4 separate regions of the Homo sapiens genome follow, and all the other regions are linked to region 2. Evidence: fine-mapped expression QTL. A gene starts in region 2. Each other region holds a variant in brackets. All regions are shown on one strand. Distances are between the middles of the regions. Region 1 overlaps TTLL4 (tubulin tyrosine ligase like 4). Region 2 holds the start of CYP27A1 (cytochrome P450 family 27 subfamily A member 1). Region 3 has its middle 7.2 kb from the start of PRKAG3. Region 4 overlaps PLCD4 (phospholipase C delta 4).

What was found. PIP is the estimated chance that this variant, and not a neighbour inherited with it, causes the effect.
Region 1: its variant is the best candidate, but not a certain one, in a credible set for the expression of CYP27A1 in whole blood (TOPMed, PIP 0.86).
Region 3: its variant is the best candidate, but not a certain one, in a credible set for the expression of CYP27A1 in whole blood (TOPMed, PIP 0.85).
Region 4: its variant is the best candidate, but not a certain one, in a credible set for the expression of CYP27A1 in whole blood (TOPMed, PIP 0.54).

The regions. Positions count from the first base shown.
Region 1 is chr2:218,743,253-218,747,414 of GRCh38, reverse strand. It overlaps TTLL4 (tubulin tyrosine ligase like 4), which reads right to left. Exons shown (of 20, transcript NM_014640.5): 6 at 2,182-2,306; 7 at 1,614-1,724; 8 at 1,184-1,260; 9 at 221-412; 10 at 43-125. Among named protein-coding and RNA genes, the nearest start is that of TTLL4, 34 kb to the right of the region's middle. RefSeq lists enhancers at 1-407, 1,401-2,600. The variant T/G (reference allele first, on the strand shown) is at 2,020.
Region 2 is chr2:218,780,461-218,784,622 of GRCh38, reverse strand. CYP27A1 (cytochrome P450 family 27 subfamily A member 1) reads right to left here and starts at 2,476. Exons shown (of 9, transcript NM_000784.4): 1 at 2,186-2,476. The coding sequence starts at 2,440.
Region 3 is chr2:218,836,958-218,841,119 of GRCh38, reverse strand. No RefSeq gene overlaps it. Among named protein-coding and RNA genes, the nearest start is that of PRKAG3, 7.2 kb to the right of the region's middle. The variant A/C (reference allele first, on the strand shown) is at 2,141.
Region 4 is chr2:218,632,463-218,636,624 of GRCh38, reverse strand. It overlaps PLCD4 (phospholipase C delta 4), which reads right to left. Exons shown (of 16, transcript NM_032726.4): 11 at 2,864-3,020; 12 at 2,404-2,520; 13 at 1,995-2,167; 14 at 694-829; 15 at 233-382; 16 at 1-154. The coding sequence ends at 48. It overlaps ZNF142 (zinc finger protein 142), which reads left to right. Exons shown (of 11, transcript NM_001379659.1): 11 at 1-3,296. Among named protein-coding and RNA genes, the nearest start is that of ZNF142, 25 kb to the left of the region's middle. The variant T/G (reference allele first, on the strand shown) is at 2,377.

The DNA of each region.
Region 1 (4,162 bases), 37 kb after region 2:
GAGGTGGGAGGATGGGGTAAGGGATATGTGCTACAGGCTCACCTCTGTACCAGGAGGGGCCTTCGCTTGGGGAGCTGACTCCACTTGTGAATAACCTGGATGCCAATGCCTCGAGCTGATGCTGGCTAGGAGCAGAAAGGAGATGAGATTTGCTCCAGGTCCAATACTCTGTTGTTCCCACTCACAGACCATAGTCTCCTGCCCACTGTGATTCACTCACTGGCTTCACAATCCACTTTTGGCGGCTGCTGCTCTCCCACGCTTTGCGCAGGAGCTTGGCGTCCTGGGGCAGGATAAAGGACTGGGGGAAGAAACTGAACTCCTTCTTGCCAAAGCGGCTCTGCATACGTGACAGGTTCCGCCATAGCCGGTCCTTCCTCCCAATCTGGAATGAGCCTGGGAAATGGTTTAGCTACAAAAGGGAAAAGGGTGAGTGCAGGAAGAGGGCAGAGGTGAGGCCATGAGGAAGATGACAAGACTCATTCTACCATTCCAACTTCTTTAGCAGCACTCCAAGCTTTTGTTCCATCTTACTATCACCACCCTAATGGTCCTCAAGTATCCAACTGCAGAGCACTCACCAAAAGATGATTAAAACACAGACAAAACAGAGTAATGTAAGCCAGATGTGATATTCACCTTAAGTGCAAAGAAAAAGCTATTACATCTTTATCCATGAAACCCTATGGGATGAGGACAGAAAAGCATTTCGCCTTTAGTAAGTCTGGAGGCAAGGGACTCATTCATTCCAATGTGAGACCAGAAGTCCTCTTTACACATATTCAGCTTGGGAGAATGGAATGTGCAGTGATCATAGGGAAACATAATAAACAGAAAACAGACAATCTAACTCAAGACACATTAGAGGAAAAAGCATCTTGGAGAAGCTGCAACTGCAGGATTTCAGAGTTACACCCTCCTATGAGGTTGGAGTTCAGGAGAGGGACTCAGCTGCCCCCTACATAGGCAAGAAACTCCAAGATACTGCAGCTGAACTGGAGATGTACGTGATCCACTGGAGTCTCTCACTGTACCCCCGTCCTGTACTTTCTCCTCTGTACACCTTCCTGACTTCTCCATGGTCATCATCCTCTTCCCGCCCCCTACCCCCTACTCACATCATCCCCCTCCTCTTGGCCTAGTCCAAAGTCCAGGGAAACAGCTCCTCAGAAAGGACCCCTACCTTCTGATGCTCTCGAATGGATCGGAAACTAGGAGACTTCATGTGGTGACCCCAGCAGCCCAGCCAGTCATCGTTTCCTATGGGAGGTACATCAGGAATCAGCCTTGCTAACAGCTCAGTCCAGGGACAGAGAGAGGCCCAGAGGCCCCAGAACTGGGCAGAGCTCCCAGACTTGGTTTTCAAAGAGTTGCTATGGAGCTGTCCTACATGAGGCCCTGGGGCCAGGGACAGAACAATGGCCCTCTGTCTCTCAATTCTGAACAACAGGCTCAGTCCAGGATTTCAGAGCTACACCCTCCTATGAGGTTGGATTTCAGGAGAGGGCCCCAGCTGCCCCGACATAGGCACGAGGTGTCTAGAGCTCTCCCCCTATGCAAAGCCCATCTATTTGGGGCAAAAGGACAGGCTCACAGTAAGGCAAGCAACTCACTTTTGCTGATTTTGAAGTGGGACCGTCCAATGGTCTGCTTGACAATGTTGGGGGTCACTGTGCTCATCTTCCATCGGAGCAACTTCCTCTGTTCCCAGGGAAGTTTCTCCACTGGGAAGAATGCAAGGGGTGTGGGGATGGGGGATGGAGAGGAGCAGAGAGTCATGATGAGAAGACAAAAAAGATGGCATGGCTGCCCATTCTTCCCTGGGCAGGCAAGTCACTAACTATTGCTCCAGATCAGGGTTTCAGAGGAGCACACTTTGGGAAAGAAGAGGGGCTGTGCAGGAATGAGGAACAAAGAAAGGGAAGACTGAAAGGGAAAAGCAACAAGGTTGAAGAGCATGAACTCAGCATGACATGGCAAGGCTGAAAAGGGTCAGCTAAAGGACAGACAAGAAAAAGG[T/G]TGCATCAGACCTACGACCACATGGGGAACTGAGCACAGTGTGACAACTGCCACAACAGCCATTCTGGAAACCCTCTCCTACCTACTGCCACCTCCTCCCAACTTAGCTAGCAACCTTCTCCCCGGGGGCTCTTCTGGGCTTTGACACTTGGCCAGGTTTACCTCTCTCATCCCGAGTGCCAAAATAGATGGTAGGGGGAACGTTGGGAAAGAGACTGTAGATGAGGGCTGGTCGGACAACTTTCTCATGATTGGAAAGGGGTTTGGTCAGAATTTCCATACAGCTTCTAAGACGAAAAACAAACATGGAGTAGAGAAAGGGAAAAAGCAACAGCCCTGAAGCGTCGTTACTACGACGTACGATTTATTTCCAAGTGCTGTCTTTTAACTTGTGATTCTAAAAAGCCAGGTGCTCAATAATTAATAATTATTTTGTACATATTAATCCATAAGGTACTAGGCTAACCTACATACAACCACACCATTAAATGTCACCTAAAGACAAGGTTTTCCAACACTTCATTCTGCAATACAGCTCCAAAATTTCCCGTGACAAGACATTGGCTGGGAAAGTCCCTGACAGGAGTAGTTCTGAGAGGGGAAATGAATGTGGGTGGATACCAGTAGCAGAACGTGCTATGCTAAGACAAAGAAATAAATGAGAGAAAAGAATGATGTAAAAATTACGAAGGAGGAAAACCAAACAAGATCTGAGGTGTAGAGACTTTTAAATAAAAAAAGGGGAAAAAGCAATAGAAAGAAAAGAAACAGTGATACTTCCAGTTCATTTTATATTTAGGTTCATCTAAAGATTCATGAACCATTAGTGCTTTTCTCCATTTTGGAAGTGATTTGTGACACTGTAATTTTATGTAACAGTATGGGAACACAGATATGGATGTGATGAAGAGATGTGGCTGATGTGGGACAGTGGGCCATGGGGGTCCCTACTGTTAATCCAACAAGGGCTTGGCCAAGGCTGTCTCAAGGGGTGTCAACATAGCAAACATATCAACTACCTGTCAGGTACAAGCTGAGAGACCAAGATCATTCCTTTAACTAGCACTGAAAAATGGAGAAAATAGCTATTACTCTTTACAACTTAGATAATATAATCCACGAATATTATTATAACATTAATTTTTAGTTTAAAAAAGTCACTTTACCTGTTATTATTTTCAGCACAACAGAAATAGGCACTGTATGTGAAACACTTCAGTGTTTTAACTCTTAAAGATTTTTAATGAATTTTATGGAATCAAGTTAAATACTAATTCCCAATGAAAAATTCTAATTAATTCAACTCTATTCCTCATTTTCAAACTTTTTCTTCAAAGGCTTTTGGTTTACTGAGTATGAGAATTTAAGATTGTTGAAAGTCAATAAGAATGAGTTAAAATTTAAAAACAAAGATAGAGGCCGGGTGCAGTGGCTCATGCCTGTAATCCCAGCACTTTGGGAGGCTGAGGCAGGCGGATCACCCGAGGTTGGGAGTTGGAGACCAGCCTGACCAACATGGGGAAACCCCGTCTCTACTAAAAATACAAAATTAGCCAGGCATGGTGGCGCATGCCTGTAGTCCCAGCTACTCGGGAGGCTGAGTCAGGAGAATTGCTTGAACCCAGGAGGCAGAAGTTGCAATGAGCCAAGATCACGCCATTGCACTCCGGCCTGGGTAACAAGAGCAAAACTCCATCTCAAAAAAACAAAAACAAAACAAAACAAAAAAGATAGAAACGTAAAATGGTACAGCCACTCTGGAAAACAATTTTGGCAGTTTCTTAAAAAAACTAAACATGTAACCACCATACAACCTAGCAATTGCACTCCTGGGCATTTATCCCAGAGAGATGAAGACTTCCATTGACAGAAAAATATGTACATGATTATTTATAGCAGCTTTATTCATAACAGCCAAAACCTGAAAACAACCCAAATATCCTTCAACAGGTGTACGGTTAAACAAACTGTGGTACATCCATACCACAGAACACTATCCAGCAATAAAAAAGAATGAGAACTATTAATACATGCAACAACCCCGGTCAGTCTCCAAAGAATATGCTGAATGAAAAAACGTCAATGTCAAAAGGTGACATACTGCTGTGATTCTATCTGTGTAACATTCTTGAAATGACAAAAA
Region 2 (4,162 bases):
CAATTTAATTAGTTATCACTTGTTTTCTTTTCCATGTGTCTCATTTTCATTTCCTTTCCAATTTAAAATAGTATAGTTAACATTTCTTCTTAAAGCAATGCGATAGGCATGAAATCTTTGCGTGAGAAAGGTAAAAGGAAGTTAATCTATAATGAAGTTCAACAGTGAAGAGGGAAGGCATCTTCCTTGGCCTCCTGTAGACATTTACAACATTTTCAAAACAACAGAGGTAAAGAAAGTTAATCTAAAATCAGAGAAACAAAGGTTACAGCAGCCTGCTTATGTGACTTGAGTGCCATAATCACATAATCACATTCCCTTAAGGCTCAAAATATTTTAAAGTTCCAACAGCTTAGGTTTTGAATTATTTATTTTCACATCCCCAAGTCTCACAAACATGAGCCCAACAGGGAAGATTGCAGGAGAGACAGCAGCCACCAGGACAGGGCAGAGGATGCAGCCCTGGTTGTAGTCAGTTTTGCCCTTCGTTGCCCTCAGAGTCATCTTCTCCCTCATCCTCAACCTCCATTCCAGTTTTCTCTGGAGTGTGGCTCAGATCTGCCTCTCCATCCTGGATCCTGCCACGCCTGAGCCTTCATCACCTTAGACCCTCTGCACCTCTCCTACTACACACACCACAGCCTGGACAGTGTTCCATGCAGGCCGTCTTCACCCCATGCTTGCTCAAGAGCTCACCATGGCCCCTCAGAGGAACCAGGGCCCTTATCTTGATCTTCAAGGCTGTCCTCAAAGGCCAGTCCTGTCCCCAGTCCCCACAGCTCCTCCTTACTTTTGACTCCTTCCCAGCACAGACACATGACCAGCAGATGGTTGGCTACCCCAGCCCAGGACCAGCCTACTCCTATCAGTCCCTGACAACCAAGTGTCCTTGTGGAGGCACCCCGAATCGAAGCCCCCTCCCTCTTCCCCAACCTTAGAACAGCTTCTCCCCCAGAGTTCTCTCTGTGAAGTTAACTTTTTGTTGCTTTATCTCTTTGTCCTCCATCTTCTTCAGAGGAGCATTTAAGCCCCATGAGGGCAGAAGCCTCATCTCACTGAATCCCAGTACTTGGAACCATGCCTAGAACATGGTAGGTGCATTCATATTTGTTGATAGTCATTAGGAAGATAGATCCTGTATGAACCCCTTTGGTTCATTCCCTAAATCCTCTCCAACATTGGTCAGTGTTGGGTTTTCCGGTCTCTGTCAGTGAGCAGTGAGCTGTTCATCCCTGCCTCATTTCTGTGTTCTGCTGTATAAAACTTTCTTATTAGACATTGGTTTTCTCCCCCAACACCACTAACCTGAACACAGACTACAGGCTGATTTCTTTTTTCTTTTTTTCTTTTTTTTTTTTTTTTTTTGAGACAGAGTTTCGCTCTTGTTGCCCAGACTGGAGTGCAATGGCGTAATCTTGGCTCACCACAACCTCTACCTCCCTGGTTCAAGCGATTCTCCTACCTCAGCCTCCCTAGTAGCTGGGATTACAGGCATGTGCCACCATGCCCGGCTAATGTTTGTATTTTTAGTAGAGATGGGGTTTCACCATGTTGGCCAGGCTGGTCTCAAACTCCTGACTTCAGGTAATCTGCCCACCTCAGCCTCCCAAGGTGCTGAGATTACAGGTGTGAGCCACTGCACCCGGCCTCAGACTGATTTCTTAATAACAAAAAGTACCTTTTCCTTACTGTCTGTGAGTTTGCTTCCACGATCTGAGATGCAGCATTGTGTTTTCCCCTAAGAGGAAATTTACCTTGCAAATAACCAAGAGGTTTCTATAATCCTCCTGAAGTTATTTCGTTTGGAAGAAGTCTGTGGTAGCCAATATCAGCCCAGAATTAGTGATTCCATAATATCCGTTAGCTTACACATTTGCCTCTGCCACTCTCTTCCCAAGACAGCTCCCTCCTCAACCTCTGCTCACTGTAAGTCCGGCGTCCAGATCCCCCCCTTACTGGTGCCGTCCTGATTTAAGCCCTTCCTCGTCCTGTTTATCTCAGCTCAAAGGGCTCTGTCTGCACTTTGCCCATTCTCCCTACTGATTTCCAGTTTATGACCATAGCCTCAGTGGGTCCCCAGCTGAGTTCCTGCAGCCTTCACTTTCTGTCCAACGTCTTCTCACCTCTAGCCTCTCTGTTCCGGTGCCCACTCCCATCCCCAGGACGCGATGCCCCCGCGGGTTACCTGTAACTGGTGCAGTTGCAGGGCATAGCCTTGAACGAACAGCTGAAAGAAGAAGCGCAGCTGTCCTAGACGTGGAATCTCCTCTAAGCTCCGTTGCCGCCGCCGGACACCAGGCCCGGCTCCGGGAGCTCCGGTGGCCTTGTCCGAGGGGAGGGCGGCAGGGATCGCGGCCTTGGCTCTGGCCCCGTGGGGGCAGAGGCCACGGCCGGCCCCTCGCAGCGCCCACCTCAGCCTCGCGCAGCCCAGCGCAGCCATGGGTTGTGCTCGCGCGCCTGCACCTTTGGGTCGAGTGCTGAGTCCCCGGACCCGCCCAGACAGCAGTGCAGGGCGGGTTCAAAGCCGGGCGCTGGGGAGGGCCGAGCAAAGGCCAGCTAGACCCCTTCCCGCTCGCTCCCTCGCTCCTCCCAGCGACGCGGGAGCTGCAGGAGAGGGACGCGGTGACTCGGGGATATCCACGGCGCCCCGACCAAGGCCTCCGCCACGACTCCTCACCCCGCGCCCCCGAGGCCTCTCAAATAACTTTTCGCTTGGTCTGAACTCTGGGCGGGGGTGCAGCGAGATTCTTTCGAAATCGGGAAGCCCCACACCGGGATAGGTCCTCGCCCGGTCGCGGTTCCCCACCCAAGGCGACCCTCGCGTCCTGGAGGGAACGGGAACCGGCCGTGGCTAAGCTGCCCTCGGCTTCTCCCAATGGCCTTCCGGATTGATCCCGGAGTCAGTTCGGAGCGAGGGGGGCCAGTCATCTGATCCCTGGAGGGGGGCCGCTGAACAAAGAAATCTAAATATTCGTGTTTTGTTGTTTTTTTTTTTAATTCAATTCTCCCTCCACGCACCTCCCTGCCGCGTCTGCCAAGGCAGGATATTTCAAACTGCAGGTTGAGACCAGATTTCGTAGATGATGGCCAGAATTATTTTTAATAAAATGGAAAGAGTAACATAGTACGGAAAACGTACAGCAAGAAGAAAAAAAAAGTATTGTCTTATGAATCCTATGTTTCATGTATATTCAAAGTATAGTTGTCAAAAAGTTTAAAAACATAACTCACGCAAGTATAAAATAAATACAGGGTCAAAGATCACATTCAAGCCAGGAATGAAGGACCCAGCAGGATGGTACAGCTGGTTCTAACAGCATTTGAAAAATTGGTGATTTACAGGCAGCCAGAGAAGAAAGGGCATATTAAGTTCAATTAGGCTGACAGCTGAGTTGCTAGGTGTGGCTTTCTACTTATTTATTCTAGGACTCCTAGTTTCTTGACTCTGTGACTGGATGTCTTTGATCAGTCTGGGGAGTTTCTCAGATATTATCTGTTCAAATATTGCTCCTCCCCATTTTTTTCTCCTTTCCCGGGACTTCAAACTGCTATATGTATGTTAGCTCTCCCTGTATCCTTCCTCTCTCTTATCCTGTCTTGTGTATTTTTGTTCCTTTGTGTCATATAGTTTGTTAATTCTCTCCTCCCCACTCCCCAGAGTCTCACCCTGTCGTCCAGGCTGGAGTGCAGTGGTGCAATCCTGGCTCGCTGCAACCTCCGCCTCCCGGTTCAAGCAATTCTCCGGTCTCAGCCTCCAGAGTAGCTGGAATTAGAGGTGCCCGCCACCACGCCCGGCTAATTTTTGTATTTTTAGTAGAGATAGGGTTTTGCCATGTTGGCCAGGCTGGTCTCAAACTCCTGACCTCAGATGATCTACCTACCTCGGCCTCCCAAAGTGCTGGAATTACAGGTGTGAGCCACAGCACCCAACCTAGACCATATTTTTCATTTGGTTTTTGGACAGGAAGGACAGGAGGCCATGCTTTAAAAACGTGGTGGCACACGTGATCCCAGCTACTTGGGGAGACTGAGGCAGGAGAATCGCTTGAACCCGGGAGGCGGAGATTGCAGTGAGCTGAGATTGTGCCATGCACTCCAACCTGGACAACAGAGTGAGACTCCATCTCAAAAAAAAAAAATTATATATATATATATATATATA
Region 3 (4,162 bases), 56 kb before region 2:
GCCAACATGGTGAAACCCCATCTCTACTAAAAAGTACAAAAATTAGCTGGGCCTGGTGGCAGGCGCCTATAATCCCAGCTACTCAGGAGACTGAGGCAGGAAAATTGCTTGAAACCGGAAGGCGGAGGTTGCAGTGAGCCCAGATGGTGCCACTGCACTCCAGCCTGGGCAACGAGAGCCAAAATCCATCTCAAAAAAAAAAGGAAAAAAAAATGTGTTGTGCCGCTTCCTTCTGGCTTTCATGATATCTGGGGAGAAATTTGTTGTCATTCGAACTGTTTTTCTCCTATAGGCAAGGTGTCCTTTCTGTCTTATTGTTTTCAAGATTTTTTTTCTTAACAACAACAAGACAAAAAGAAATCTTAAGGTAACAGAAAGGTTGAAAAAAACAAGATTTTTTTCTGTCTTTAGATTCAGAAGTTTTACTATGATGTGCCTTGGCACAAGTTTCACTGGGTTTATTCTGTTTGGCGTTCTCTCAGTTTCTTGAATCTGTAGGTTTATGTCTTTTGCCAAATTTGGGCAACTAAAGGGAGGACTGTAGTTGTAATTGTGTCTTCAGCATACATTTCATTCCTAGTGACCCATCCAGACACCATCCTTTCCTCCTCCCATCTTAACTTTTTTTTTTTTTTAGACAGATTTTCATTCTGTCGCCCAGGCTGGAGTACAGTGGCATGATCTCAGCTCACTGCAACCTCCATCTCCTAGTTTCAAGTGATTCTCCTGCCTCAGCCTCCCGAGTTGCTGAGATTACAGGCATGCGCTACCATGCCCAGCTAATTGTTTGTATTTTTTTTTTGAAGAGACAGGGTTTCACCACGTTGGCCAGGCTGGTCTTGAACTCTTGACCTCAAATGATCCTCCTGCCTTGGCCTCCCAAAGTGCTGAGATTACAGGCATGAGCCACCATACCTGGCCTCATTATAACTTCTAATATTATAAACTAATTTTGTCTGGATTTGATGCAGTAAGACAGCATATGCTATTTTGTGTCTGGCATCTTTCATTGTGCAATTCATTTGTATTATTGCATATACTTGTATGTCGTTCACTCATTCTCATGACTGCCTACTATTCTATATGAGTTGATGAATACCAACATGTATTTGTCCATTCTACTACTGGGACATTTAAACTGTTTCCAGTTTGGGAATATGTTCTCTCTGCACCAGTCATGAATAGTGTTGCTCTAAACATTCTAGTATATATCTTTTGGTGCACAGATGAATGCATTTCTGTTGGATGCATATCCAGGAAGAGAATTCCTGGGTCATAGGATAGGCATCTGTTCAGCTTTAGTAGATAACACCAGTTTTCCAAAGTGATTGTGCCTATTTGTATGCTCATCAGCAGTGTACAAGGGTTTCCACGTTCCACATCCCCTGTACCAGACTCTTTTCATATTCGTTCTTCCTAGTTCTTGAAACAACTCTGTCGGGTAGACATTATTATTCGCATTTTAGGAATGTGGAAATCAAGGCTCAATGAATGTAGATGATTTGCTGAAAGTCACATGCCTAGTGTGGCAATGTTTCTTGGCTGGGCAGAACAGGAGCTCTGTTGAAACCCTCCCTGATAGAATGAGGCAACACTCTTCTCAAAGAAAGGTTCTCTGAGGGCTCTAGGTAAAATAAGACTGCTAAAGACATATGTCCACTCTGGTTTGCAAGCTACCCAGAAGCTCTGTGGTAGAGAACTTGAGCTTGGCCTATTATTGGCATTTAAACATGTGCAGCTGGTGGAGTGGAATTTCCTGAAGGTCAAACTGGGGTAAAGGAGGGAAAAAAGAGGGAGAAAGAGGAGGAAGAGGAGAAGGAGAAGAAGAAAAAGTAGAAGAAGGAGGAGGAGGAGGAGGAAGAAGGAAGAAGAAGGGAGGAGAAAGAGGAAGAGGAGGAAAAGGAGGAGTGAGGGGACATACGGGAGGAAGGAGGATGGGCCCTTGAGGCAAAGTCACTGTGTATAAAAGACATCTGGTAGAGAAGGCTTTACTGGGCAGCAGAGCTGGGATATTAGAGGCTGTAAATCCAGGTGAGAAGTGAGGCTGCACTTGACTGTCACTGTAACCCAGCTCTCTGCCTCACACCCACACCCTGGGACTCTGGGAAGGAGAGAACTATGATATAAGGAAATGATGAGT[A/C]TTACTAGGGACCAGCAGGTTAGCTGCGGGAATGTTTTTTCAAGTAGCCGATCTGAAGAAGTAGATGGAAAGTTTCTGTTGGCTGGCGTAAAAGGGAGACAGAAGCCACAGAAGTCTGGATGATTACTATATCAAAATCAAAAGTTAATCAAAATCACTTCCTCTTCCTAGATAACACTAGGATTTTCAAATACTTTAACTCCATTTTCCCCTGCCCCTAATTTATATATTATAGTTGGCAATATTTTAATTATTTACCCCCCACAAAACATAATTTTTATTTTATACATAAATATATATATAAATAAAATACGTGTGTGTCTGTGTGTGTGTATTTGCAGTTAGTATTCATGTAGATTTATCTACATTTTTACCACTTTTCTTCTTCTTTAATTCTTCTTAGGTTTTCTTAGTTCTTACATCCAACATGTGAGATGATCACTTTCTTCTTTCAGAATTTTTCTTCACTGAGGTGATAAACTTTGTTTTGATCATAAAACAAATTTTTTATCTTATTTGTAAATTTCCTCTTGGTATTAAAATTACAAGTTGGTTGTTACTTTCAGCACACTGAAAATATTCTACCATTTTCTGGTTTCCATTTTCTATTGAGAAGTCAGCTATTAGACTGCCATTTCTTTGGAAGTAACCTGTCTTTTTTTCCAGCTGCTTTCAAATTTTTTTCGCTCTTTGGTTTCTGCATTTTTCACTGCAATGTTTCTAGGTATGGTTTCTTCTCATTTATCCCCCTATGGATTCATAGGCTTCTCAGAGATAGACATTGTTATTTTTCATCAGTTCCAGAAAACCTCAGCTAATCTCTTCAAATAGTGCTCTGCCCCATCCTCTCTCTACTCTCCTTCTGGGATTCTATTTAAATATATTTTAGACTTTCCTCCTCTGACTTCTATGTCTCTTATTCTCTTTCATTGTCTTTTATATTTTTTAATCTCCCTGTATTACATTCCAGGTAAATTCTTCTGACCTAATGTTCAGTTTTCTTTTCAGCTTTATCTAGTCTGTCATTAAATTCATCTATTAAGTTTTTACCTTCATTTCTGTATTTTTCATTTCTAGAAGTTCTATTCACTTTTTTTCAAATCTGCCATGCTGCTTTTTATAGTTTCCTACTTGCTCCCTACTTTTTCAAACTTATCTTATTTATTTAAACATAGTAAACATATTGTTACATATAACGTGTCTGATAATGCCGATTTCTGAGGTTTTCATGGGTCTTTCCTGCTAGCTGTCTTTCTGCTGGTTCTTGCTCATGGTTCCTAGTTTCCTTGTGTACCTGTTATCTTCAAGAATGTGTTGGGTACTATTGGAATAATTTGTGACCTTGGAAGATGATAACTTTCTTCAGAGACTTTCATATTTGCTTCTGCCAGGCACCTGAGATCATTACTGGTTCTTAAACCAAGTTCAAGGTTTGATACTCTCTGGACATTCAGATGAGGAACACTTTGACTATAAATCCATGTAAGTTTGCTTCTGGATTACACTCACTCTGAGGTTGTGGTTTTTTGAGATCCCAGCTTTCTATATACGGGGTCTCTTATCATACTCTCAACTTGTGTGGGTCCTGGGCCCTTATCACCCCATGTGGTTCTCGCTAGAACTGGCAAATGCCCTTGAACAAAAATCACTTCTTTTCTTATGAGCTTCACTGTGTGCCCATTTTCCTTTCAGTTAGGCCTAGTAAGTCTTTGCTATCTTGTCTTTTCAGTGCTTTTAAGAAGATGCTCTTTATATTTTATCTAGCATTTTAAGCTGTTTTTAGTGGAAGATATTTTCTGAATAACATAGCCTGCCAAAACTCTCAAATATTATTTAAGCAAAGTGTATTATTCCCTTTCCTCCCAGAAGACCTCACTTTTGAAACTCAAAGCCAGAAGATGCTCCTGTTTGCATTGTGTCATTTCTTCCCTAAGGCAATAAACTAAGTATCTTCCAAGATTAAGTGAGAAAGGGGCTACCGGATAACAGAAAGTGCCCTCCCCAATACGGATACTATCATGA
Region 4 (4,162 bases), 150 kb after region 2:
TCCCCGTCTAAAGCCAGCACACCAACCCTTCCCGTGAAATGCCCACCTCAGGACTCATCCCCCTCCAGGCCTTCCTGGATGCAGATATACACAAAGATGGAAGCTGGGCGGAGGCTGATGCCATCTTTGGACAGCAGGTGAATGTGGCGGTAACCTGGAAGGGGCAGGAGGACAGCATTAGGAAGGCAGCCAGAGCTGGGGTATTGGCCAGGGGCCAAAGGGGCTGGCTCACCTTGTTGCATGCAGGTCCAAGGCAGGGTGTACTGACCAATAAAGTCATTTCGGGATTTCCAGTCATAATCCATTACCACAAAACGCAGCATGGCAAGTTCAGGCACCAGCACCCGGAAACATAGTGTCTGCCCCCAGTATGGATTAAAACCTGAGTTGGTGGACAGAAAGAAATAAGAAGACATTATGACAGTTTTCTTGACTGGGTTGCTTTTCTTGTGTTCTCATTTAATCTAGATGGCAATCAGCATTTTACAGGTAAGGAAAAAGGCTCAGAGTAAGCAAGTAATTTGCCCAGGTCACTGGAGCTTTTAAGTGAAGAGCCAGGATTCTTTGTACTGTTCCACACTGCCTCCCATGTGGGGACATGCAATAACAGATGCTATACTTAATGGAAGACAGACTAGAAGGAAAACTAATCATGCTCCTACCCCCACCTCCCCAGCACTGCCAGTTTCTCACCATTGTTCTCCACATAGTTGGTCTCCTGCCGTGCTGTGTCTAGACGAACGCCAAAGATCTGCACTTTCACCAGTGGATCCACAATGGACCCCTCTTTGGTCTTGTCCACTTTGGGGAGTTGCTGACCGCTGATCACCTGTAGTCAGGGCTCTGGAATCTCACAAGTTCCTGCTCAGCCCAGCCCCACCCGACCCTACTCCCAACCCCAGGGGAGAAGAAGCTTTTTGGTTTGTAAAACATCCTCCATGGGTAATATATTTTCTTCTAGTATTCTATCTGCAATTTAAAATGCACCCAAAGGCCGGGCACGGTGGCTCACACCTGTAATCCCAACACTTCAGGAGGCCGAGGTGGGCAGATCACTTGAAACCAGGAGACCAGCCTGGCCAACATGGTGAAACCCTATCTCTACTAAAAATACAAAAATTAGCCAGGCATGGTGGCGGGCGCCTGTAGTCCCAGCTACTCGGAAGGCTCAGATGGGAGAATCACTTGAACCCAGGAGGCGGAGGTTGCAGTGAGCCAAGATCATGCCACTGCACTCCAGCCTGCAGCAGAGCAAGACTCTGTCTCAGAATAAACAAATAAATTAAATGGATCCAGGTAGAAATTCAACAGTTTGAAAGTAGGCATGCTAATGACAGCAGCCACTTTTTTTTTTTCAAAGAGACACGATCATACTCTTGACCAAGCTGGAATGCAGTGGGGCAGTCATAGCTCACTGCAACCTCCATCTCCTGGGCTAAAGTGACCCTCCAGCCTTAGCCTCCTGAGTAGCCAGGACTATCTATAGTCATGTGCCACCATGCCAGGCTAATTTTTAAATTTTTTGTAGAGACGGGAGTCTCTACAAAATTTTTAAATTTTTTGTTGAGACCAGTTTCAGACTGGTCTCAAACTCCTGGGCTCAAGCAGTCCTCCTGCCTTGGCCTCCAAAGCGCTGGGATTACAGGTGTAAGCTATCGCTCCCAGCCAGCCTCTTTTATAGCACTTCCTGTGTGCCAGGAATTGTAAGAACTTTATATTAACTGTTATACTCCTTATAACCCTGTGAGGCAGGTGGTAGTGTTACCCCTATTTTGCAGGTGAGCAGACTGAGGTATGGAGAGGTTAAGGAACTTGCCCAACATTACCCAATTAGGAAGTTGTGGTTTGAAGCTAGGCAGCTGGCTCCAAAAGCTAAAACTAGACACTGTTAATAGGCTATCCGGCCTCTACATTCCGGTCAGGCCTAGCCACCTCTTCCCTCACTTCTATCCCAGTTATCTCAGTTTCTTCCCAACAGTTTATTTCCACTGTACCTGGATTAAGAGAGTCTGGGCTTTGAAAGGGCTGATGGGCTTCTCAGGGTGGAAAGAACTCTGGATATCACGCAGGAAGTCTGGCTTCAGCACATAGCCACAGCCGCCATTCTGGCGGAAATGCCCATCACAGATGTCCATTTCAAGCCCTGCAGTCTGCATATTCATGGCCACTGAGGGCCCCAGGAGAAAAGAAGAGCAAGATTCACCATGGAGGCCTTCCAGCCCCTCTTTCAGGGAGTTAAGAAGATAGGTACTGGGTGCACGGTACCTGCTGGTAATATCCACTGATAGCATTTCTCAGCCTAGCAATTTTCTTGAGCATTCCCCAACCCTACCATCACTAGAGAACTTATTTCCCACCTGCTGCTCCTCCACTCCC[T/G]CTTCCCAGTCCCTGCTGCCTCCTCACCCATCTGGCAGCCTGCATTCCAGAGTTCCTGGGGGTTGTAGTTGGAAGAGTCTGTCCTCAGGCCGCTGGGATACACACGGCTTAACTGCCAAGTATTGTGCTGCACAAACTCATTGCCTGTAAAAGGGTATAGAGAGGGAGATGGAAGTGGGGTGGAATCTCCCACTTCCCTAGTCCCAAGGACCATGCCTACTCTTCACCCTTCTCTCCAGCATCTGAAGCTGGCTCCAGAAAGTTTCACTGTGCCTCTCTACTCTGTCCATCCAGACCAGCTTTCCTGCCCCTAGACCCTTGAGCCACTATTCATAACTCCTCTGCCCTTGTCTGCTCTAAGGAGTTTCTGAACTCCTTCATCTCTCCTTAGCTACCTTGTCTTTTTTCTTGGGACTTACCTGCCAGTCCATCAGGCCTGAACCTATCCATCCCACTTCCCTCCCCATCCCTCCATTTTGGTCCTGACCAGCCTCCTTGATGAGGCGCTTGGCCTTGGTTTCAGAGAAAGATGATATCTCGTAGAAGTGGTAGTGCTCCTTTGAATGTGTGAAGCTGCGGAATGAGACAGACTTCAAGTAGATAACCAGGGAAGAGAGGGCTGGACACAAGATGGGCTTGGATTTCTGGAGAAGGTGGAAAAGAAGATGGAATTGAACCCTCAGCAGTCTGAGAGAGAAGAAGATAATGGCCATCCAACCTAAACCTCTGCCCACTGCCTCCCCACTGTATTCTCCCTCCTGCCTCACCTGCCGGGACAAGAGAAGGGACTCAGGCTTGGAAATAGGAGCCTGGGCCACAATCTGACAACAGATAGACGGACAAAACAGCGGGCACGTCACAACCTGGGGGTGGGAATGGGAATAAAGGCGGTCTGCATGTACTGCTGGGATCAGTGTCAACCTCTGGGCTTGTGTTTGCTCTATGTTATATCCTGGGTGACAGGTTTTAAATTTATTATTATATTTAAACAGAGAGGCATTATCCTCCCTCCCTCTCATTTAAAACAAAGGAACAATAACCTTTGGTCAAAATGTACATGAATCCAGACAGATATGTCAAGGTATGCAAATGGTCATGTAAGTCACACCTGGAAGGATGTGAGAGTCCCAGAGTAATATCTTTGGATTTGTCTCCTGAATTCCCATTTCCATCCCTGGACATGGCAGCAGGTTAGACACCACAGCCCCAGAAAGCACAGGATAAGCTAGGAGTCAGTCAGCTGAGTGAGCCACGCAAGTACACAAGAGAAAGGCAGACTTCAAACCAGGATCTTGGAGGCCCCACCAATGGCATCCCTTCTCCCTCTGCCTCCCTTCCCCATAGGGAGATGGACCACTCTAGCACAGCCTTCTCAGAGCCTTCACGTTCCCCACCTCAAAATGCTCTCCTTCCTGCTCCTCTGGCTACTGCTGGCCCTTCCTAAAACTCATCCTTTCCAAAAAGCTTTCTCTATGCCCACTTTGGTTGAGATCACAACAATCATTCCAGTAACCCCTACTTACCCAATATAATAATGTTACACATACAAACACACACCCGCTCATCACTGGTTTTCAAGCTGGCCTTTAAGAAGACCAAGAAGTACAAAAATGTCTCAGGAGTCACTAGGGCACCCAGGAGAGAGCCAAATGGGTGCTTCAACTAGGATGGTTCTGCGTTTATCTATTTTGCGTAAGATTTCATTTTAAAAAAAAAGATGTGGCCCAAAGAAGTTGGAAAGCCACTGCAACATACCTACATATGGCAGTATATAATATATATTGAT